Homo sapiens: one gene and its partners. The protein of the gene in region 1 interacts with the protein of each later gene in a pairwise test. Each region holds a gene or a part of one and is shown on either strand. Other genes may lie near its edges.

Region 1 (2,671 bases):
ATTAGCAGAGCATTTTCTGCCTGTTTGGAAGGTTTGATGTCCTGTTTCTCATTGAAGACTATTTACATGATCATTAGGACATTGCAGGAGAAGTCTGAGAGGTAAAAATACAGATATTCTGGGAGAGTCGTGGTCCTTCAGTTCTGCTGAAATCAGCATAGTGCCCTTGTCATGAGGAAGAGTTTCTGTTCAGCCAAGAGTGGTGGCACGCTTGGGTGGTAGTTTTGGAAGCAGTCAGTTGTGCTAGGACTTATTTAATATGTTGTGAAGAGAAGAGTGTCTTCTTGAAAGCCTTATGTGTCCATCAGCTACTAAATGTAGAACTTAAATAAGTTGCTCACATCTGTTCTTTTAGTGTTTTGTGGTATTTGAGGTTTTGGCAAAAATTGGGATTTTTTTATCAGGCAGCCAGAGCCTGGGAGGTGGTAGGGTGTCTGAAATGCTGGCCATGTTCAGAGAGGCAGGAGAAGGGGGTTGCTTTCATTTGAATATTAAAAGTGAATTTTTGTAAACTCTGGTTTTTACCTTTTTTTCATCCCCACGTTGAGTTGGAGGAATAGTCTCTTCTCTTCACCTCAATATAGCTTTAGAAAATCTTTATCCTTCCTAATAAGTTTGGATGGTTGTGGGTAACATTGTTCAAACAATCTTTCAGGGATCACGTCAATGGCCTACAACCAAGCTATTTGTCCCCTACTTTGAGTCTTAACTGTGGTTTTTCTTCAATCCCCATGGGAAAGGGCTTCAAGGCACCACCAGTGGTATTTAATATTCATACTTGGGGCCAGGCATGGTGGCTCACGCCTGTAATCCCAGCACTTTGGGAGGCCGAGATGGGTGGATCACCTGAGGTCAGGAGTTTGTGACCAGCCTGACCAACATAGTGAAACCCCATCTCTACTAAAAATACAAAAATTAGCCAGGCGTGGTGGCGCACACCTGTAATCCCAGCTACTCGGGAGGCGGAGGCAGGAGAATCACTTGAACCTGGGAGGCGGAGGTTGCAGTGAGCCGCGATTGCACCACCACACTCCAGCCTGCGCGACAGATCGAGACTCTGTCTCAAAAAAAAAAAAAAAATTCATACTTATGCCATGCTTTTACCTTTAGATACACACGTTACAGTAATCCACGTGGTGAAGTGCATGTCACCGTTAACTAAGGAAGGACTGCGGTAACTTACCCTGCAGGGCTGTAGGTTGCCTGCAGGCGCTCCAGGCCCCCAGCCTGTTGATTCCGATTTCTAGGTCTCATCTTCCTCTGGTCCCTTTTGGCCACTACTTTAAAAGCTTGCCCAAAGGGATCCCCTCCATTCTAGTGGGCATTTGCTGAACTAACCTGCCCCTAAGGCTGGCTTCTAACCACCGGGGAAAGCTGCTTAGCCTCCAGGGCTCCCTCCTTGAGAGGCTCACACACCCCCAAGCTGCTGTGGAGTGAATTTGAGACGGAGCAGAAGCTGCAAAGCTGTGCTTTCCCTGGGGAAGGGGATGTGCTGCGGCCTCCTGGGTGGGCGTGGAGAGGGCGCCATCACAACGAGTCCAGGTTTTTGCTTTTGGAAGGTCTCTGATAATTTAGGGGTGCTGGAAACCAGCACTGTGTTATCCCCAATCCCTCCTGTGCCACCAGTTTTGTGATTTAGGTTGCTTTAGTGGGTGACTAACTTTTGTTCAGTGAAACCAGGGTTTGTTTGGGGTTTTTTTCTTTGCTACTTACATATTTAAAGGTACAAGTTTCTTATTTCAAATCTCTACTGATAGTGCCCTATGGGGAGATGCTGGAACACATTTTGCAAATGTGACTTTTTTTTTTTTTTTTAATTTTTGCTTGAAGCCTGTGTCATGTTAGTTGCTGCTGCCTTCTTTCCTTTTGTGAGGTTCCCAATGTTTCGTCCAGAAAAGTACTTTATTTATGCAAGTCAGGTGACTCTTAGGCCACAAAACCATTTGATGATAAACAGATTATCATTAGGTGCATATCTTATTGATATTTTGTGAAATGTTATGCCTATGTTGCAAAAGTTGAATAGTTTTGTCTTTATATATTGCTGTCTTCAGTGTACAGCATGGTTTTACTTAATTGAATGTTAATGTTTAATATTTTCTTCTTATAGAAGAGATCATGCCCTTTTGTATGACATGTTTTAATAAATGTTATCTGTCAACTTTGTAAAAGTTTTGTTTTTCACTATGAGTAGATGACCACATCTTGTTTGACTCTGGGTTTTGCCACCTGAGAATACAGTTATATGGTGGCGTTTTGGTAAGTAAATGCCAAATAATCTGATCCAATGGGCAGTGAGTGACTGCCAGGCAGGCATTTATAGTAATATTTTAGACCCCCACTGGCCCCTTCGGGTACTTGGGGTGTGCTAGAGGCTCTCTGTGCCCCCTGGGCCCCCTTCCTGCTATGCACTTCTCTCCAGGAAGCTGGCCACGGTGGACCTGTCCTGGCTTCCGGTCAGGATCCAGAGACACTCTGGGTGGAGCCTGGCAGAACAGAGAACAGAGAAGTCAGGGAATTCATTCCCCTGGCTCCTTCCCGCCAGCTGTGGGTTGGCGGTGGCTGGGCTCCTCTGCCAAGGCCCACAGGTCCTGTCAGGCAACTTCTGGGGTTTAGTAGCCACACCTTCCCCTTGTCCCCTCAAGCCAGTCTCAGTCCTGACTCCCTGCTT
Region 2 (8,547 bases), on another chromosome or scaffold:
TTTTAAAAATCAATTTATTATCAGCCTTATAGTATATTTCCCCATAAGAAATGTTTATTTCTCTTCTCTGAACAGAGTATTTCTAAATATCCTCAGTTGTACATATTAATTAGGTTGAGGATAAACTGAATGATAGTTAATGAAATCAGATCTGAGGATATGAATTTTAAATTGATTTTTAAGTTTACTCTTTATCACTTATCTGGTGTCAAATTGATTACCTGTAAGTTCTCACATTGCATCACAAAAACACCATCAGGGATTTTTGGCAATTTTTTTTTTTTGAGACGGAGTCTCGCTCTGTCACCCAGGCTGCAGTGCAGTGGCGCGATCTTGGCTCACTGCAAGATCCGCCTCCTGGGTTCACACCGTTCTCCTGCCTCAGCCTCCCAAGTAGCTGGGACTACAGGTGCCTGCCACCACGCCTGGCTAATTTTTTGTATTTTTTTTTTAGTAGAGATTGGGTTTCACCGTGTTAGCCAGGATGGTCTCGATCTCCTGACCTCGTGATCCGCCCACCTCAGCCTCCCAAAGTGCTGGGATTACAGGCATGAGCCACCGTGCCCAGCCTGATTTTTGGCAATTTTTAATGTTAAACATGGCACTTTACCCAGCTGAAAAAACACATTTTCCTAATCACCCTTGGAGCTAGAATTGGTCTTGTAACACACTTTAGACCAAAAATACATAAGTAAAAGTCACAGGGTGCAGTTCTGAAAGACATGGGGTTGGCTGAGCATACATTTGATTTTGTCTTTTGTTTTTTCTCTTTCTGCCTGGAATCTGGATGTGATTCTAGTGATGAAGCAGTCTTCTTGCAATCATGAGGCAAAAAAAAAAAAAAAAAATGAAAGCTGCTTATTAAGATGGCCAATGGAAAATAAAGGGGGAGCCTAGAGGCCTGGTGGCATTGTGTGGCCTTGGATGGGCTCCGTATTCCTAGAAAAATTGACTCATAAAAAAAACCACCTATTTGGTTCAGCCACTGTAATCAGCTTTCTGTTGTACAGTCAATGCCAATCTTAAGTGAGATAGTAACATAATATGTTAAATTGGTTAAAAAAAATGTGAACACAACCTCAAAAGAATAGTTTCCAGCATAGCACTTCTGGTCTCTCTCTCTCTTTCCATACACACACACACACACACACACACACACACACACACGTTTGTATGGTTTCTGGCTCATAACTGCCATAGCCCTTGTTACACTCGTTTGTTATAACATTGGATGCATTAGGCTTCAGAGAACAAAATCTCTCTGACCTCCTGCCCGCAGGACCCTAATCTTCCCCTACCTCTCTGATTGTGGGTCATAAGACCATCATTCCAGAGAGGGTCCCACCTCATAGCCTGGTGGAAAAAATATCGATGTCATGAAGCTTCCATGAAAACCCAAGAGGACTGGGTTTGTAGAGCTTCTGGAGAGCCGAACACATGGAAGTTCCTGGAGGGCTGTGTGCCCTGCAAGGGCACAGAGGCTCTGCACCCCTCTCCCCATGCCTTGCCCTACACATCTCTTTATTTGTATCCTCTGTAATATCCTTCATTATAAACTGGCAAACATAAGTAAGGGTTTCCCTGAGTTCCGTGAGCTGTTCTAGCAAATCAAACCCAAAGAGGGAGTCATGGAAACCCCAACTTGAAGGAAGTCAATCAGTTCTGGAGGCCCGGGCTATGACTCACGTCGGGGACTGGGGAGTCGTGAACTGACTTGAAGGAAGTCAATCAGTTCTGGAGGCCCAGGCTGTGACTCCTGTCGGGGATTGGGGAGTCGGGAACTGAGCCCTCATCCTGTGGGATCCGGCACTATCTCCAGGTAGACAGTGAAGGAGCTGAACTGGAGGACACCCAGTAGAATTGATGGCTTGCTGATGAGGAGAAATCCCCATATATTTTGGGGCTACATAAGTCTTCTGTGTTGTTAGTATGAGAGCAGAGGAAAAATAGGGTTTGAGAGTTTTTCTGAAACAATTTTCTGGTCTCCTAAGGTAGGTGTGGGTTTGAATCCCACTTGTGGCAGTGTGAGAGCAGAAAAAAAAACAGTTTGAGTTTTTCCAAAACAACTGGTGTCAAAACATGGCGAAACCCCATCTCTACTAAAAATACAAAAATTAGCTGGGCATGATGGCAGGCGCCTGTAATCCCAGCTACTCAGGAGGCTGAGGTAGGAGAATGGCTTGAACCCAGGAGGCAGAGGTTGCGGTGAGCCAAGATCATGCCATTGCACTCCAGCCTGGGCGACAACGAAACTCGGTCTCAAAAAAAGGATAAAAAATAAAAAAAGTAAACTGTATACTCATGAACGATACGTAAATTGTGTGTATATATATTATATATATCATATACGATTTGTTGCAGGGACTGTGCCTTACACCATTGTGGCACATAGTTAACAGTTCCTGTAAGGCTGTTGTCTTTGCATCTGATGCTGGAACAGGGCAGACAGTTGGGAAGGGAAGATGGATGTAAAGTGAGGAGAGACAAGTTGAGGTCTGTGACCTCAAGCTGGAGCCCAGGATGCGCTGAAACCCCTTTGTTGCCCTATAGGAGAAGCTGGAGCCTTTAGTCTTGGAGCTGAAGGAGCCAGAGGAAGAGGGGGCAGCTGCTGCCTCATGTCGCCCAGGTGAACCAGCAGACACAATGGCACCTGCCCAGACCTTCTGTAGTCCTCACCATCTCTGGACACACTCTGTAATTCCTACATTTATTCTGCGTATTGCCTACTGTCTCCATTCACATGTATGGTCCAGAAAGACATGGATTTGTTAGGCACTTGCTTGTTCACTGATGTAGCCCCGACACTTAGTGCTTAGCACACAAGCACTCAATAAACATTGTGCTGTTGAAGGAAAAAGAGTGACAGAGACACAGAAGGGACGTGCTAGAGAGGATGTCAGCTGCTAAATCTAAGTGAAGGGCACGGAGGTATTCATTGTATTATTCTTTCAACCTTTATGAATGTATCAACATTTGCAAAATAAAAAAGTTGTGGAGGAGGAAGAAAAACAAAAACCAGGATGCACTGAGGTCTGAGGTGAAGGTCCTAGGAGCATCAGTTCTCTGTTGGGATCAAGGTTGCTGGGACAGAGCTTGATCCCTGTCAACTGCTAAAACAATCCAGGACAATCCAATAGTAGAGCTGAATTTTGATTACCTTGGTCCTGAGCTTCACAGCCCTTTGGCAGAGGAAATCCTGTGACACTGAGGTGTAACCACAAGACTGGCCCAAACTGACCCTATTCTGTTGGTAACAGGAGGTATAGCAGAGCCAAAACTGAAAGTCATGTAACCCGGACATGCACAAAGGAGGAAAATCATAACTCGGAACCAACGTTTCCTCCCTGTGGAGCCAAGAAGACAGGGACATGACCGGAGCTTGAGGGGCGGAACGCTTTCAGAAGGGAAGGGTCCATTATCCTGGAAGATCTGGTGCTGAAACCTGCCATTCCACACCTTACCATAAATGGCCAAGTTTAAAGCCCTCCTATTGAAACCTGCCCGCCAGCACTTCTGTGTGCCAACCTGTCCTCCCTAACCCGTCGACTTTGACCTAAGCCCACATGTGGGAGCCACATTTGAGCCATGCCTCCGGTCTCCTTGGCCGTCGACCTTGAAATAATAAAGCCTTCTCTTTTCTCAAAAACTGGTGCCACCGTTTTGGCTTCTAGTGCGCCAGGCAACGGGCCCATTGCTCGAAACGCGCGTGGTGGATGGTAGCTCCGTGAAGTGCGAACCCCTGCCCGCAAGGGCTGCTAAGTTCGCTGAAGCGTAGCACAGACTTCGCGTCTGCCTGGTGCGCGGCAAGTACGGAATTATCGCCACATCCTCCCGGCCTCCGCTCCCAACAGCACGGGCCGGGCACTCGCTTCAAGCCTACCCCCTAACCTTAAGCCTTCCCCGCCGCCCCCACGCAGCCCCCAGCCCCGCCCTGTGGGGAAGCCTCTTGAGAGTCTGGGCCCGCCCACGCGCCCAATGGACGACGCGGACCTGACCTTCGGGAGTGGGGCCAGCAGAAGGTGGACTAGGCGTCAGCCTTCCCGTCCCCTGACACCGCTCCAAACCAGCCCCACCCTCCCTGCCGCGGCTGTCAGGTCCTGGGCTGTGCCCGAAGCCTCCACACGGGTGTGGCCCGCGCCCTCGTGAAGGCCCGCCCCTCTCCCCCAGGTGCGCGGTGTAAACACACCAAAAAGCAAACACCAGGGCCGAGTGGGCGACGGAGACGGTCGCTGTTCAGTGACGCCCCCTGTCGGGAGCACGCCGGGCCGGACACAGCGAAGAGCGGCTGCGCCTCGGACCTCGCAGCACTCAGCCTCCTAAGTGGGAGGAATAACCTCACGCAAGTCATCAAACAAGAGGACTTCAGTGTTGCAACGAAGGAAGAGAAAGGGCCCCTGAGAAGGCGACATTCGCACTGCAGCGGCGCAGGGACCAGCCAGGCGGCTGAGGGCAAGGTCGTTCCCAGCAGCGGGAACCGCAAGGGCAAAAGGCTCGGAGGGGGGAACGAGCTCGAGTTCCAGGACGGCCGAAGCCAGCGCAAGTCGAGGAGGGACTGCGGGGCCGGCAGGGGTGTCCTCCACAGGGCGACGGCGGCAGGAGCTCGGGAACCGGGACTGCGAGCGGGTAAGGCTCGGCGATGGGCTGTAACCTCCGCGCCCGGAAGTGCGGCCGGGGAGCCGGCCGGGCCCATTGCCCAGAGGTGTTCGGCCCCTCTAGGGATCGCGGAGGTCTGGCTCTCGGTGGCTCCTGAGAGCTCCCTGCAGTCGGTCACCGAGAAAGGCTTCGGGCGGGCAGGCGGGCCAAATGACGTAAACATGCTTGCCCTCCAGGATTGGCGAACTCGGCTGTGGGGGCGGGAACTGAGGGGCAGGAGCCCCCAGGGATTGGCGGCTGCGCAGACGGGGCGGGGCAGCCCTTTGTCTGAAGGTGCTGCGGGATGCCGTTCCTTCGCGCGTGAGGCTGCGGCTCTGACGGTGAGTGGGGGGCGCGTGTCGTCGCCGGCCAGGACCCTCTCCCATCACGGACACCGGAGCCGGTGCGTCCTCCACACGAATCGTGGACTCTTCCCCGCGAGCACGCACTGCCTCCTGCGTTTACGCTGGTCCCCTCCCCTCACGGACGCGCGGCGGCCTCCTCCCCAGGGCCAAGGCCGCGCCCTCTCCCCCGTTCGGGGTTCCCACCCTTCCCCTCGCCCGGCCTTGGACCCCCTCAGGCCCTCCCGCACCCCCGTCCGCCTCGGACGGCCTCGGTCCCTTCCCCGCCCCTACCCCCTTGGGCCCCGTCAGACCGGCGTCCCTCCCACCTTGGATCTCCTCAGATCTCCGGCCTTCCTCCCCCTCGTGCCCTCCCGCGCGCTTTCTACCGGGCGCCGTGCCTAGGGCCAGGATGGCCGGAGTCCTAGGGGCGCAGTCCGGACCCCCGGGCCGCTCTTCTTGCCGCGCTCCTCGGGGTCTCGCGTCCCCTGGGATGGGCCCGGAAAGGGGTGGGGAGCTTCCCCAAAATATAAAAATGGAGGTTTTTTCTGTTTGATGCACATCCTGAGGAGCCCCATGAAGACCCCGGCGGCGCACCGGGAGCGCCACTTTACTTAGCTATAAAAAGTCTTCCCGCGTCAAGACGAAAACGAGCTGCTTTCGTTTCAGCAGTTGGTCGAGTGTGCTACTTGCCGGGTGTCTTATCCTCTCCCCATTTTGCTGTCGATGCTGTCTTTTCTGTTACTGTGTTAGAGCCCTATTTTAATGAATGAGCCCAACTCTTTGCAACACAGCAAATATTTTCCTTGTTGTTTATTGGCTTAATTTTAAAATTGAAAATAATATGCAATACTTCTTCTAATGCAGGCATGTCAGAAATATATAAAAGTCATCCCCCCCGACACTCTGCCAGTGTATGAAGAGGCAGGAGCTGTGAACAGTTTCAGAATTTTTGAATGCCGTTAGAGCTTTAGGCACGCACGCACACCCTTTTTTCTGTCATCAAAGGGAAGCTGGTGTCGTTTGACTAACACCAGGGGCGGCAGGGGGCGCTCCACTCGTCCTCCGCCGGGTGGGTACTCGCAGATTTTTCAGTTCGTAACTTGTCTTCTGGACATAGGTTTCTCTGTCCGGTGGTCTCTACGAAGTGGGTAAGGGTGGGAGATTGCCATTGACATTCCCGCCCTGGACGGGACTCTGGTCCTGTGGGCTTTGACAGGTCACTGCATTCCTGCCAGGTCGACGTTTTGCGTTTATTGGTGAGATTGAAATCCCTTCATTTGTGTTTTCGCCATTTGTATTTCTTTGTGATTTGCCAGCTCATATTTTTTTCCATGTATGTTGAAAACATGCTTCTCAATTTGTCTTTTGACTCTGATTATGGTGTTTGATTCTGGTTTGGGCTTTTTCAAAATAGAAAATTTAAAATTTTTAGGAGTCAAATATTTTGCCTTAAGGCATTTTGGGCTTTGTGCTGTGTTTTAAAGGGCTTTCCCCACTCCAAGATTATTTTTAAAATAAACTCTTGTTTTTCTGTGGTACTTGTAAAATGTTGGATACGTCTGGAATTTATTTTATTGTGGGGTGAGTTTGGAATACAGCTTTTGGAATTCCTTTTTTCCTCTAAATCATAGCCATTTCTAACACCATTGATCTTCCCATTGATTTGAAAAACCGCTTTTGTCATATACTAAATTGTTGCATGCCTTTAGGTCCATTTTTGGAGTTTGGTAGCTTTGATGTGCATATGATTTTGATTTATAAGCTGCAGATCTGTGGAGCTCTGCTTTTTGCTTTTGGTATTTTGCTTAGAACAGCCCTTCCCACATGAAATAATAAAAATATACCTGTATTTTTATTAAAGTTCTTTTTTATTGAATATAATAATTATACACATTTATGGGATACATGTGATATTTTGATACAAGGATAGCATACAATGTATAATGATCAAATCAGGGTAATTAGGATGTCTGTCACCTCAAACATCATTTTTTGTGTTGGAAACATTTCACATCTCTTCTTCTGGTTGTTTTGAAATATACAATAAATTATTAACTGTAGTCATCTTACCGTGGTATCAAACACTGGAACTTATTCATTATATCTGACTGTATGTTTGTAGTCATTAACCCACTTCTATTCATCTCATACCTCCCCCCAACCCCACCCTTCCCATCCTCTGGTAATCATCATTCTACCCTCTACCTCCATGGGACCAACTTTTTTAACTCACACATACGAGTGAAAACATGCAATATTTGTCTTTCTGTACCTGGCTTATTTCAATTAACATAATGACCTCCAGTTCCATCCCTGTTGCTGCAAATGACATAATTTCCTTATTTTTATAGTTGAATCATATTCCATTGTGTACATATACCACATTTTCTGTATCCATTTATTTGATGTACATTTCGGTTGATTCCATATCTTAGCTATTGTGAATAGTGCTGCAGTCAACATGTATGTTCAGATATCTTTTTGATATACTGACTTCCTTTCTTTTGGGTATATAACAAGCAGTGGAATTGCTGGGTCATATGGTGGATCTATTTTTAGTTTTTTTCATATGCTTGTTGGCCATACATATTGTCTTTTTTTGATAAATTACTCAGATCATTTACCTGTTTTTAAATCGGATTAGTTGTCTCTTTCTATTGAATTGTTTGACTCCCTTCTGCATTCTGGTTATTAATCCCTTATCGGATGGATAGCTTGTAAATATTTTCTTCCATTCTGTATGTTGTTTCTTCACTCTGCTGATTGTTTCCTTTCCTGTACAGAAGCTTTTTAGTTGATGTAATTCCATTTGTCTAGTTTGCTTTTGTTCCTGTGCTTTTGAGGTCTTACCCAAAAAATGTTTTCCCACATGAGTGTCCTCAAGTGTTTCCTTGATGTTTTACAGTTTTCTTTATAGGGACTCTGCATTTCTAAGGTTTAATCTTGTTTCTTGTTGCTATTTGTTGAATAGATTTTTTTCCATTCATATTTTCTGATTAGGTGTTACTGGTATATAAGAAAGCTATCAGTTTGGTTGTTTTTTTGTTTTGTTTTGTTTTGTTTTGTTTTGTTTGTTTGTTTATTTGCTTTTTTTCTTTTGAGATGGAGTCTCACTCTGTTGCCCAGGCTGGAGTGCAATGGCGCGATCTTGGCTCACTGCAAACTCCACCTCCCAGGTTCAAGCAATTCTCATGCCTCAGCCTTGGGAGGAGCTGGAATTACAGGCACGTGCCACCACACCCAGCTAATTTTTGTATTTTTAGAAGAGACGGGGTTTCACCATGTCACCCAGGCTGGTCTTGAACTCCTGACTGTTGGGATCAGGCCCCCCCAAAATCTGGCTATAAACTGGCCCCAAAACCGGCCATAAACAAAATCTCTGTAGCACCGTGAAATGTTCATGATGGCCATAATGCCCACGCTGGAAGGTTGTGGTTGTGGGTTTACCGGAATGAGGGCAAGGAACACCTGGCCGGCCCAGGGTGGAAAACCCCTTAAAGGCATTCTTAAGCCACAAACAATAGCATGAGCGATCTGTGCCTTAAGGACATGCTCCTGCTACAGTTAACTA
Region 3 (8,008 bases), on another chromosome or scaffold:
ATTTCCTGTGCCTGCCTGTCTGCAGTTTTTCTTTCCCCTCTCTCTTATATAACTCTTGTTGAAATCAGTCTATAGATACATGTTCCTTGTACAGAAATAAACAGAGAGCTAATAATTAGTGAAACGTCTTTGGGTTATTCTTTGACATACATATTAATAACAGCCCCCTGAGGGAGGATTCTATTATTGTCTGCATTTTATAGATGAGAATGTGGAGGATCAGAGAGGTTAAATAACTTGCCCAAGGCCACACAGCTGGTAAGTGGGGAGAGAAGTATGCCCCAGGCAGCCCCACCTGTCCAGACTCCATGACCTAATGCTCCTTCCTTTCTCAGGCATAGCCCAGGAAGGGCAGCAGAACCACCCTGAAGTGGCTGGAGTGTGGGTCACACCATCTCTGCACTTCCCTGAGGTGATCTTGAGGAAGGATGGCTGATCCTATGCCTGCTTCTCACTCCCTGGGACTGCACTGAGGCCAGAGCCTGTACCCCTCATACTCAGATCACCCTCTGGAGCTCCTCAGGGCCTGCAGGAGAAGGTGCTGACTCCTCTGTGTTCAGACTCTACATCCAGCCCACCCCTCGCTGTCACACACTGTCCCCTCCAAGCACAGACCCTCTCTCTCCTGGCTCTCTGCCTGGCCGTTTTCCTTCACAAGGAACCAGAGAAAAACTCTTCCTTCCCAGAGACCCTTAGGACCCCACCAGAATCATCAGTTCATCCCGGTGGCCTTTGCTCTAACTTGCTGTGGGATCTCTAGATCCGTGTGACCCCATGCAGGGTCAGGGGCTCCCTGAGGAGTGGGGGCCAGCTAGGGTCCCTCCATAGCCCCATCCCCAAGGAAGGGGCTGAGAAGACAGGGTCCCAGGAGCCGCAGTGGCTTTTCCAAGGAAGGAGCTGACAAGATGCTCGCAGGAGCCCCAGTGGCTTTTCCTGGGGAAGGGGGTGTTTTCACAGTATGTGCACCTGCATTTGTGCATCACTGCACAAGCAACACACAAGTGGCTATGTCTTCACGTGTGGGAATGTGTGTCCACATCCACATGTGTGTGCTCATCTGCACCTGTGTGTCCATGAGTGTGCACACATGGAGGTGCCTGTGTGCACGTACAGTTGCATGCTCCTGAATTGAGGTATGTGTGTGCATCTGCATCTTTGTGTGGGGCTGTGGGTGCACCTGTGTGGCCAGGGTGTCGGAGTTGGGGTGTGTGGCTATGAGTGACCCTCCTTGGGGCCACTCCTTCCTGTAGCTATAAGTGCATAGTTACAGCTGAGAAAGGGCAACACTGACAGTCATAGAGGCCTGCGGATCTTAGGGTGCCCCTGCAGCATCCCTCCAAGTTCACCATGGCGAGGGAGGTGCACTGTACCTTTGACTGGAGCCACTACCTCAAAACCCTTCTGCCTGAAGCTCCAGCTGAGCCCCACCTCGGCCCTCTGCCACCAGCATCCATCAGCAGTCTTGGTGAGCAAACAAAGATGCCTCTTGGAGCTGCTGCCTAGGGGTGGGGTTGTTCAGTGGTGGGTGGGTGCGCCTACCCTGGGTAATCTCTGAACGGCAAGACCCTGGTTTTGGGGTCAGGCAGACTGCAGTTAAATATTAGCTCAGCTTCTTTCTGTGAACCTCAGTTTCTTCATCTGTCAAATAAGACAACAAACCCCTGGGTCATTAGAGGACTGAATGGGGTCAGGTTGCCACAGTAGATGCTCACTCACTGGGAGCTGCAGTGATTATGAAAATACTTATTATTATTACAAGTCCAAGGGTCTGCACCTGAGGAAGTGTCCTGAGGAGTGGGCTGACAAACTGGTTGAGAGCATAGTGCCCCAAGTCTGTGTAGGGTGTGGACGGCTACAGATGGAGCCGGGATGGGGGTGAGGGGATAGGGCAGGGCTGAGTGGCATGGGGGATATGCCCACTTAGGGTAACCAAGGGCTCTTCTGTGTGTGAAGCCATGGGGACATCCAGGGCTAGTACCTAGGATGAGGGCGATGAACACCTGCCCGAGGGACTGCATCTGTCCATTCACAGCCGCCTTGCCATCCCAGAGCTCTCGCCTCTGCCAGTGGGCTGCTGGGCCTCCCTGCTGCTGTAACCCAGCCAGCCCAGGGTCTCCTGCAGTGTCCCACCAGGGCTTCTCTTCTGCCTTCCTGGCCTGAGACATTGGTTTTGGTCATCCTTAAGGAGCCTCTTCTGGTAGAAGTGGTTGAGCTGGCTGCCCTGGGCTGGCTTCCCGGAGCAGATGGAGTCCTCAGACAGAGTCTTATCCTCTCAAGACCTGAGGCTGCCCACCCGGCCAGGCCGACACTGGGCTGTCATCCTATTGCTTGCCTGTCTTCTGCTGCCGCAGGGCCTGCAGGAAGACACTTTTCACCTGGCCCAGGATCTCATGGTACATCCGGAAGTCCTCCTCCTTTCCCCGCAGGGCACTGCCCAGGGCAGCCTTTAGCATTTCATTCTCCTCCACCTGGATGGCCAGCCTGGACCACAGGAGACAGTGCTCAGTGTGGCTGGAGCTGCACACAGGTGTGCGTGGGTGACAGAGGGCCCTGGGAATGTGGTTGCCAGCATGGCTGCTCTTCAGGCTCAGGCTTCCCTCTGACCCATCCCCTCCTCTCACTGACTCTTGTGGGTACCATGGATTCCTCTCTATGGGCCTGGCTCCCTGCAATGTAAGCTACCTCAAGGCCCCTTACAAATTGAGTTCCAATTTGTAGAGGTTCCCGTCTTTCCCTTCCCATGGCTGCGTGGGGTCTTAAAAGGTTTAACGTAGTGAGAAACTGGTTCAGTGATCCATGCTTGATAAAATTTCTCTTGGACTATGGGTCATTGGGGTTTGGGCCGGGCCCTCTGTCCTCTGAAGGCCAGTCCCTGAATTGCAGGCCTAGAACCCAGGACCAAACAGGACAAGCCTTCTGGGCAAATGAGTCAAAAGTGCAAGGGGAGGGACACAGTCCCTCTGCCCATGGAGGCACCTCTGCTCAGACAACCCTACCCTTTCAGGAAGGCGGGGCAGGGGAGCACCTGGTTGTCAGCTCTTCCATTTGGGATTCCACGGGCACATCGGAGAGCTGGGCAAAGGATGGGTCCTTCTTCTCGCTCCCGGTTGGGTTGTGCCTGTTGTTAGAGGTGGGCAGACCTGTGGGGCAGCAGCAACCACTTTCTGTGAGGAGGCCACAGCCCTGTGCTAGCACCCTGCTTCTCCTCCCGCCATTGCCCACTGCCTGCTCTTCCACATGGTGAAACGCTACACCGCCTTCGGGGTGCAGGGCAACTCTGAGCTCTGCCTCCCTCCGAAGCCCTCCCTGATGCCTCCTCTGCATGCCTCTGCCCCTGGCTTTGGCCTCTGCTACAGCCCTGACTCTGCTCGCTTTGTACCAGGGTGGTTCCTCACCACCCTGTCTCCATCTTTATACTTTACAAGTTTCTGGTAATTTGTTTTCTTTTTTTTTTCTTTTTTTTTTTTTTGAGACAGAGTCTTGCTCTGTCACCCAGACTGGAGTGCAGTAGCGTGATCTCAGCTCACAGCAATCTGCGCCTCCAGGGTTCAAGCGATTCTTGTGCCTCCCGAGTAGCTGGGACAACAGGTGCCTGTCACCATGCCCAGCTAATTATTGTATTTTTTGCAGAGACAGGGTTTTATCATGTTGGCTAGGCCTCCCAAAGTGCCAGGATTACAGGCGTAAACCACCATGCCCAGCCTGGTAATTTGTTTTCAAAAAGAGAAACCAGCTGAGCCTGAGGTCTGGCCTGCAGGCTGAGCCCGAGTCTAGACTGTCACTGTACCTGATGCCCTCATACCAGTGGTCCCCATCCAGGCCATCAGCTTCATACTAGGAAGCAGGGGATCCAGGGTCCTGGAGTTGAAGGGTACAGAATGTTCACAAAAAGGAGACAAAGTGGCCCACGGTGGGGTGGTCCCAGAACTTTGGGAGGCCAAGTGGGGGCAGATTGCTTGAGGTCAGGAGTTCAAGACCAGTCTGGCCAACACGGTGAAACCCTGTCTCTACTAAAAATACATAAAAATTAGCCAGGCATGGAGGCATGCACCTCAAGACTAGTCTTGTGTAAACCTGTCTCATTGCTGGGGAGGCAGCAGAGTGGCTCTGCCCTCTACAGGGGCTGGACTGAGTGTTCTTCAGGGCCTTTCCTGGCTCCAGGGGACACTGCTAAGCTGCCCTTGGCTTATTCCACGCATTGAGCACCTCCACATCCCCAACTAGAGCTGCCCTGGATGGGAAACTGCTTGTTCAGCCTGATGGAATTTTCTAAGCCCTGTGACACAGGGAATCAAAAAGAGCCTCAGCCGGGTGCGGTGGCTCATGCCTATAATCCCAGCACTTTGGGAGGTCTAGGGGGGTGGATAATTTGAGGTCAGGAGTTCAAGACCAGCCCGGCCAACATGGTAAAACACCATCATTACTAAAAATACATAAATTAGCAGGGTGTGGTGGCGAACCCCTGTAATCCTAGCTACTTGGGAGGCTGAGGCAGGGGAATTGCTTGAACCAGGGAGGTGGAGGTTGCAGTGAGCTGAGATCGCACCGCTGCATTCCAGCCTGAGGGACAGAGTGAGACTCTGTCTCCAAAAAAAAAAAAAAAAAAAAGACAAAGCTCAACTGGTGGTGGCGAACTTGGGCAAAATCACAGCATCAGAAAACCTCGGGACTGAAAAGGCCCTCAGAGGTGGTGTGACCCACAGTAAATTACTTGGTATCAGAAGACCTGGCTTTCGCCCTCTGCTGAGAGGCCTCAGGCAAACTATCAGCCTCTCTGAGCTGGTTTCCTTAGCTGAAAAAAAGGATAATAGTTTATGCCTCTAGAGCTTTGGCAGCCTCAGTGAATTCTATTTGGCTCTCAAGGCCCTGTGTGATTGGACCACTCCAGCCTCCCTGCCTCCTCCCTGTTCCTCCAAGCATCCAGCTAAGCTTCCAAGCACCGACACTTGTCTTTCCCTCAGGGATCGGCAGGCCACATCCCCTCCCAGTTCCTCCATCTCTGCTCAGATGTCTAGCTCCCCTACTGGAGTGAGACTGCCATGGGGGACTGAATTATAAATCTAGCCTCCTCATTTTACGGATGGGCCAGGGGGAGGCGGGTAAGTGGTGCTCTGCTCACCAGAGGGGCAGGATTTTGCCCATGTTAAAAGCCAGTAGGCAGCAGAGGCCACCTGGACACTTTCCCTCAGGCAGCTGCCCTCACTGTCCAGCAGGGAACAAAGTGACTTGCCTGCTGTGGCTTAGCTCTCCCTGGTTGGAAGTCCTGCTGCCCTACAGGAGGTAAGCCCCAGCCTGGAGAAGCCACACTCCTAGGGAACATATTCCTGAGAGTCCAAGAGGGTCAGCAAGGCTAAGCCCCAGAGACCCTTCCTTCCCGGCCTGGATTCTCAGAAGCTCCTGGCCCTGCTGGTGGGAGAAGAGAAAGCAAGTGGCCCCAACACCCTCTTTATGCCCTACTTCTGGCACACCCTTCTGAAACGTTCTGACCTCATCTGGGCTGAGGACTGAGACCAAGGGTCTGACCATCCTTGGCTGGGGAGGGGTTGGGGGGCTACTGGGGTGTTGAAAGAGGGTGCAGTGGGGGCAGCAGCACCTCCAGCATTCCAGCCTGGAGGGGGCTGGGATGGGTGGGATGGGAGGTCAGACAGAGGCAGGCCCAGCCCCTCCACATTGGAGACCCTTCCTCCCTGGGAGTCAGCCATCCCAGAAATGGCTTCTGGCTCTGGCATCCTCCAGCTCGCCCCAGCCCCACAGGATGCTGATGCTGCTCATCTGAATACTGCACCTTGAGAACCACTGTGTTCGAGCGATAGACTTTTCAGTTAAGGATAGCATTTCCCAGCTTCCCTCTGCACCTGGCTATGCCCAACTGTCTGGCTGATGGGATGAGAGCAGAAGTGACATATGCAACCGTAAAAGGTAAGGAGAAGTTTGTCTCCTTCCCTTCTCCCCTTCCTGCTGCTGATGGGAAAGCTCAGGCAGTCATTGTAGACCAGAAGATGGAAGCTGCATGTTGAGAACAGTGGAGCCACAAAACAGAGGGAGCTTGGGTCCCCAAACCTCTGGTGAGGCTACTTCCTGCTTATATCAACTTGACCATTGCAGGAGGCACAAAGGGACTCCTCCCCTGCTTCAGCCACTGTTGCTTGGGCTTCCCCAGCAGACCAGCTGTGCCCCATGACCACTTTGAATGAAGTCAGCTTAGGATAGAGGGTTGAGGGCTAGGGTGGCTGGGGGCATTCAGCACTGCCACCTCATGCTGAGGGCTTACAGGTGGCCAGGCCAGGGCCACACGAGGCAATGGAGCTCTGGGGCTCCTGCTTCTGACTGAGAGGCCTGGGGAAAAGAACACCCCACAGTGGAGGCAGGCAGAGCTCCACCCTGATGGAAGCTCTGCTTCCCACATGCTCACTGATGGGCTGAACAGTGCAGCTGCCTGGCTCCTCTGTTAGCAGCAACACTGCCTCCACCCCCTGCACTGAGACTACTGCCCTGGCCCCTACCTGTTTTGGTCCTGGGAGCTGCTCTCTGGGAGGCTGATGCCTTCCCTGGCTCCAGGCGTATCTTCTCCAGATGTTGCTCCAGCACCACGGTGCGGTGTCGCTCCTCCTGCAGCTTCCTCTCTGACTCCAGGAGCTTGCTGTTGCTCTCCTCCACCCTGGTGATTAGAGAGGAGGGGATGCTACATGCCCTGGCAGGCAGGGGCAGGCCCTACCCCACTTGCTCAGGCCCTTAGAGAGATGGGCACATCTTACATTGGTAGTGATGGGACCTCTTCATTTTCATTGCAGTAACACAGGAACATGCATTTAAACACCATATGGTTCTCTCCAAGGTTAAAATTTAAAAATTATCAGCCCACTCCCAGCCCCATCATTCCCAATTCCTGCTCTCTAAAAGCAATCACTTATAACACTTCTAGCTGTTTCTTTTAATATTTACTGCCATATTTCTACAGATGCTTATGTTGCTATTTTTAGGTTTATATAAGGTTTAAATATAATCTTTTGACTTCCTGTCATGCAAAATAAGAATTTAGTTTTATTTTAGTACTCTCCTCCTACGAAACAGAATCACCTGTATACGTTTTTGGATGAATTGATATTAGGTATCAGTTTTCTATCACAGCTATAACAAATTACCATAAATTTAGCAGCTTAAAACAACACAAATCTATTATCTCACAGTTCTGTAAGTCAGAGGCCTGGCAAGCTCAGTGGGTTTCTCTGCTTCTGGTTTCACAAGCCGAAATCAAGGGGTTGGCTGACCTGGGCTCTTATCTGGAGGTTCCGGGGGAAAATCCACTTTCAGGCCCATTCAGAGTGTTGACAGAATCCAGTTCCAGGTAGTTGAAGGACTGAGGTCCCTGTTCCCTGCAGGCTGCTGGTCAATTTCACCTTCTAGGAGCCACCTTGCCCCCTCCATCTTTAAAGCCAGCTAGATACCCTTAACACACTTTGAATCTCACTACCCTCTCTGACTTCCTCCACAGCAACTCTCTGAATAATCCCAGACGGAGATATTTCTCTGCTTTTAAGGGCTCAAAAGATTACATTGAGCCCACCAGATAATCCAGGATAATCTTTCCATTTTAGGGTCCATAACAATAATCATATCTGCAAAATCTCTTTTTCATGTAACATAAAGCACTCACAGGCATAACAGCAGGGAGCAAAGGGCATAGACACCAAAAGCCTGTCTACGTTAGGACAATTAGTTAGAGCCATGACGCACAGTGTCATATGTCCTTTCTCATTTAATTGTTCGCTTTTCTTGGAGTTAGTGATTATCTTAAGCTTATTGTTTTGTTTTCTACATGCCTGTCATAAATGTTATTTCACATGAAGCACTTGTTTAATCCCACTGGAGCTTGAGCTTAGGTCCTTCCTGTGGCTAGGTGTGCCATTTCAGACTTCTATGATACTAAAGGTTCATTTAGTGAGAAAGCCAGAACTCCCTGAGATCTAACCCAAGCCAAGAGTTACATGCACACCTGAAAATTAGAGGG
Region 4 (4,694 bases), on another chromosome or scaffold:
AAAAATTGGGCACACATCCTCCCAGGTGGGAATGTAATGCTTTGGTATTTACAGAATAGCCAGTTACCTGCTTTGTACATGAGGAGTCAGTGAACCGTTATGTAAAGTGTGTTATGTGACACACCACAGCTCCCAAAGAATGAATTTACCACTGACATCAAGGTTTACTGTGAAATGCAGCAGATAAATATTTTACAATAGGAAATTTAATGAAATTCATACTTTTAAGCAATCATTTCAGTAAAAGAAATTGTTATAGATGATGTGTATGTATGACGATAGATTCAGAACTGGTTAGAGTTGAATTTCAGCATTACATTTTAAAGGTATTTGCCAAACCCTAAAGCTCATTTTATTTCAAGTGAAAACATCATCATGAAAAAAGTCACGTCACATTGACTAACAAGGTTGGTAACAAATGTAATGATCAACTTTATCATTTAACATTTCACAAGACTTTTTATTGGTTTCTAAAAAGCAGTTAATATTTTAAGGTACGGTATATAAACAAAATAGCCATATCTGATTTTTGGCAACATGAAAATGCCAATTTCCTTTCAAACCAATTCCCGGACTACAGCTACAAATGTGGTCAACAACGTCATCCTGGAGTAAAATTCAGCTCCTGACACACACTTCTATGGCAATTATAACATAGTTAACACTTGGCCTGTACCTATATGAACACTGATCCATTGGGGGCCACTGAATAAAAATTTCTTCAATCTCATTTGCTATTTTAGTTGAGGATTCTAATTTACAGAAGAGCTGGGCCTTTCCTTCTCCCATTCCTTTTATAACTTCCTATCCAGTTTCCTGCAGTTTGTTTTTCCTCCTATTTGAATTGTTCTTATAATCTTTAAACGTTTCTGTTTCCATTCACTTTATGCGTGCATGCTTCTCTATGACTTATCAAACGTAGCACTGGGTGTAAAGTGGTATTTTTCCAAGGTCAAAAAAAGTATACGAATTCATTTATTAGGATTAGGCTTAAACTGCTTTCATTGAGATTATTCAAAGGATTTTTGCCCTCATTAAAATTATATCAAGTAAATAAAAATATGACATCCATAAGTGTGTTTGTTCACCAATAAGGATTTAGGTTTATCCAACTTTTTGCTAATACATATTCAAGCATTGTCTTAAGTTAAAAATATGATTATCATTCCCAGTAGATGTGTAACAGAACACAATAGGGCTGTCAGTTTTTTAAGGATATTCAAAATTATGGAAAACAGGTTCAATTACAAAAAGCCAGCTAACAGCACAAAGGTCACCAAGGTATGATACAATTTTGAGTGGGACCTATGCAGTGGTACTTAGCCATTAAAAATGCCAACAAAAGGAATGGAGGATGAGTCACAGTAAGTATTCCCTTAACTGTGAAACTTAAATATGCATGTACACTGATTACATTCTATTTCAGGTGCTTGTATAACTGTAAAGATATTGTATTACGAAGAAACACAGCTGGAAGTCTGGGCTTCTGCATTGTAGGAGGTTATGAAGAATACAATGGAAACAAACCTTTTTTCATCAAATCCATTGTTGAAGGAACACCAGCATACAATGATGGAAGAATTAGGTAATAATAATGACTAATCAAAAATACTTGTATTAAATGTTGTTTCATAAATGCCAAAGCTTGGCCCCATTTGAGATAAGGCATGTATTTATTATACTTTGTGGGGATTAAAAGTATGTACGTAGCATTCAACTTCTGAGAAATCCAAAATAATTACACATATTCTTGGTCCCATACTACAACTCCCCATACTTTTAGCATTCCTTCTAACACAAGCTGAATGGATAGTGAGTTTGGAGAATGTAAATAAGAGGCAAGAAATATCTCAATTAGAAGTTAACATAATTAAAATGGTCAGATGTAGCAAAATCTAGCACCACTAAGATAAACTTGCATTAACTTCAGCAACGAATTAAAATACTAATCATATCTTGTTTTGTTTTTTTTTTTAGATGTGGTGATATTCTTCTTGCTGTCAATGGTAGAAGTACATCAGGAATGATACATGCTTGCTTGGCAAGACTGCTGAAAGAACTTAAAGGAAGAATTACTCTAACTATTGTTTCTTGGCCTGGCACTTTTTTATAGAATCAATGATGGGTCAGAGGAAAACAGAAAAATCACAAATAGGCTAAGAAGTTGAAACACTATATTTATCTTGTCAGTTTTTATATTTAAAGAAAGAATACATTGTAAAAATGTCAGGAAAAGTATGATCATCTAATGAAAGCCAGTTACACCTCAGAAAATATGATTCCAAAAAAATTAAAACTACTAGTTTTTTTTCAGTGTGGAGGATTTCTCATTACTCTACAACATTGTTTATATTTTTTCTATTCAATAAAAAGCCCTAAAACAACTAAAATGATTTGTATACCCCACTGAATTCAAGCTGATTTAAATTTAAAATTTGGTATATGCTGAAGTCTGCCAAGGGTACATTATGGCCATTTTTAATTTACAGCTAAAATATTTTTTAAAATGCATTGCTGAGAAACGTTGCTTTCATCAAACAAGAATAAATATTTTTCAGAAGTTATAGTTGTCTTTTAGTATGTGATACTAATTAAGATTACTTTTGTATTATCACTATTTAAAAGATCCTAGTAATTTATTCTTTCAAATACCATGTTATTTGTTACCATCACCGATGAATACCTCCTAGGCTTATCCCTAAAAATGCTCGCTCAGAGAATTAATTATAAACTTGTTTTGTTTTTAGTAAGAAATGGCTAAAGCTCTTTTTTTCCACAATCGTTAGTAACTGTATAAAAACTCATGCTGCTCCACCAGTGGGCCTTGGAAAATGCATCAAGAAGGCCAAACCAGCTTGACCCTGGCTCACAGACATGGTCATGAGGCGATTTAAATTTGTGCCACAATGAAGAGTGTGTGTACACATGCCTCCTAGAAACTACACTATGGGTAATTAATTAATTTATTTCATAGAGGCCACCCAGATGCCTTATAGGTTTTATTAATTTGGATATGAAAGTGTACCCCATTTGGTTTCACCAGGAACCCAAATTTAGAATATTGAAAAGCCATCAAAAAGTTGTGATATCAAAAATGTATGAGTCTCTTAATATACTAAGCAAGAGTGTCACAGCAGTAATGATAAAGACTAGTTTTAATCTCAAGCCTTAGAGGGGCCCTTTGTTGCCTTTTGTGATGCAGCCTCTTAAGAGAGTGGTGTTTGATTAACAAAAAAACTGTGGCCCAAGTGGAACCCTTGACCTTTTCTCAGATAATCTGTGTATGTACACAGCTAACACAGCTCTTTAGATTCCCTGTTAAGTGACTCATTCACATTCCTTTCTTGGATATAAAGTCATTGCTGTCTTTTTATTTTTGAAATAGTACAAGACAAAGATTTTTAACTTAACATGAAAAATTCACTCTTTTATTTTGGAAAAAAAGTTAACTTTTCATACTAACAAACAGAACAAGATTTAAGGTAAATTTCTTAAACATTATCCAGAAAAATAACAAGATTTATAGTATCTACTTCTGGTACTAATATACACAAAAGGCCAAAACCATGCCTATTCTGCAGGTGTAGCTTCGGTGCTCTCCTGTTCAGGGGCAGGCTCACTGCCCGCTTCTTTTCCTTCTTTGCTTCTTTTAGATTTTTTGTGTTTGTGTCTCCTGTGACTATCTCCTTCTTCACTTTCATGGCGACGTCTACTATTACTGGAAAAAAAAAAAAAAAAAAAAGGTGTGTTCTGTTTAAATACACAATCAGTGACAAAAATCCAATCACTCTAAGGAAATTCTCAATATAACACTGGGTTTAAAATAATCTAATGCATTTTCTCATAAATATAATGTGAGGAATAATCAGTTTTATGTGACTTTTATGCAGGGATTGTATTTATTTTATAGGGCCATCTTCACTGATATTATCTCAGATTCCCAGTGCCTATACACAGCTTCTGAAATGCATATTATAATATACAGTAACAAATTAGAAACAGGCATTAACTCAAAACCGGAAATACTGTATAGGGTTGATTTTTGGCAAACAATAGGTATTTTGTTTAATGCTTTTTTAAAAAAATTTGAGACAAGGCCCTGAATTTTTCTTTAATGAAACCAAGCAAGACTGGTTCATAGGCCAAAATTTCCCCTCTTCCAATGCGACAATGTAGTAAGTCAAAATCTCTCACATACTATTGGTTCACTATTTTATTAAAGAGCAAACCTTCGAGAAGACTTATGTCTGGTTTCCTCTTTCTCCCTGTGTCGTCTTTCTCTATGTCGTTCTTCTTTTTCTCGACTTGCTCTGTGACGCTCATAACCTCTTTCTGCATATTCCCTGTATCTGTATCGTTCTTCATCGCTGAAATTGAAATAGAAATGTTTTCTTGACAACTGGACCATTAATTCTGAATGGATTCAAACTGTAAAAGAGATGTGATCTGCAGTCCAAATCCAAAATCCTCACATTAGCATCTTTTATAACATTAGTGAGGAAGAAATATTCGTTGAATTGAGAGGAAAATAATGCTTGTTCTCAAAATAGCACTAGAGCTAAGAATATAAATATATAATAATTACACATGTTAAATGACCAATTTTGTTCTGTGCTTTCATAGCTGTTAAAAAGATTTAATATAACAATGCTTTGGTTTTTTCATTTCTTGAAAAAGTGAGATCTGCAACTGAT

The links.
Region 2: the proteins of ZBTB43 (region 1) and ZNF250 interact in binary tests that used the Homo sapiens proteins (3 or more experiments, as listed by UniProt).
Region 3: the proteins of ZBTB43 (region 1) and CCDC13 interact in binary tests that used the Homo sapiens proteins (3 or more experiments, as listed by UniProt).
Region 4: the proteins of ZBTB43 (region 1) and LNX1 interact in binary tests that used the Homo sapiens proteins (3 or more experiments, as listed by UniProt).

Annotation. Positions count from the first base shown.
Region 1 is NC_000009.12:126,836,040-126,838,710, forward strand, and holds the end of ZBTB43 (zinc finger and BTB domain-containing protein 43), read left to right. Parts: 3' UTR 1-2,171; downstream 2,172-2,671. UniProt on the Homo sapiens protein: May be involved in transcriptional regulation.
Region 2 is NC_000008.11:144,897,825-144,906,371, reverse strand, and holds the start of ZNF250 (zinc finger protein 250), read left to right. Parts: upstream 1-4,918; 5' UTR 4,919-4,973; exon of another isoform or gene 4,974-5,035; intron 5,036-6,066; exon of another isoform or gene 6,067-6,232; intron 6,233-8,547. Other genes in the region: uncharacterized protein LOC124902042, read right to left, coding at 4,091-4,690. UniProt on the Homo sapiens protein: May be involved in transcriptional regulation.
Region 3 is NC_000003.12:42,706,659-42,714,666, forward strand, and holds part of CCDC13 (coiled-coil domain-containing protein 13), read right to left. Parts: intron 6,659-8,008; coding exon 6,504-6,658; intron 3,141-6,503; coding exon 3,026-3,140; intron 2,482-3,025; coding exon 2,322-2,481; 3' UTR 1-2,321. UniProt on the Homo sapiens protein: Required for primary cilia formation and promotes the localization of the ciliopathy protein BBS4 to both centriolar satellites and cilia.
Region 4 is NC_000004.12:53,458,326-53,463,019, reverse strand, and holds the end of LNX1 (E3 ubiquitin-protein ligase LNX), read left to right. Parts: intron 1-1,426; coding exon 1,427-1,585; coding exon of another isoform or gene 1,586-1,589; exon of another isoform or gene 1,590-1,977; coding exon 1,978-2,113; 3' UTR 2,114-3,491; coding exon of another isoform or gene 3,492-3,718; 3' UTR 3,719-3,719; downstream 3,720-4,694. Other genes in the region: FIP1L1 (pre-mRNA 3'-end-processing factor FIP1), read right to left, coding at 3,571-3,718, 4,230-4,367.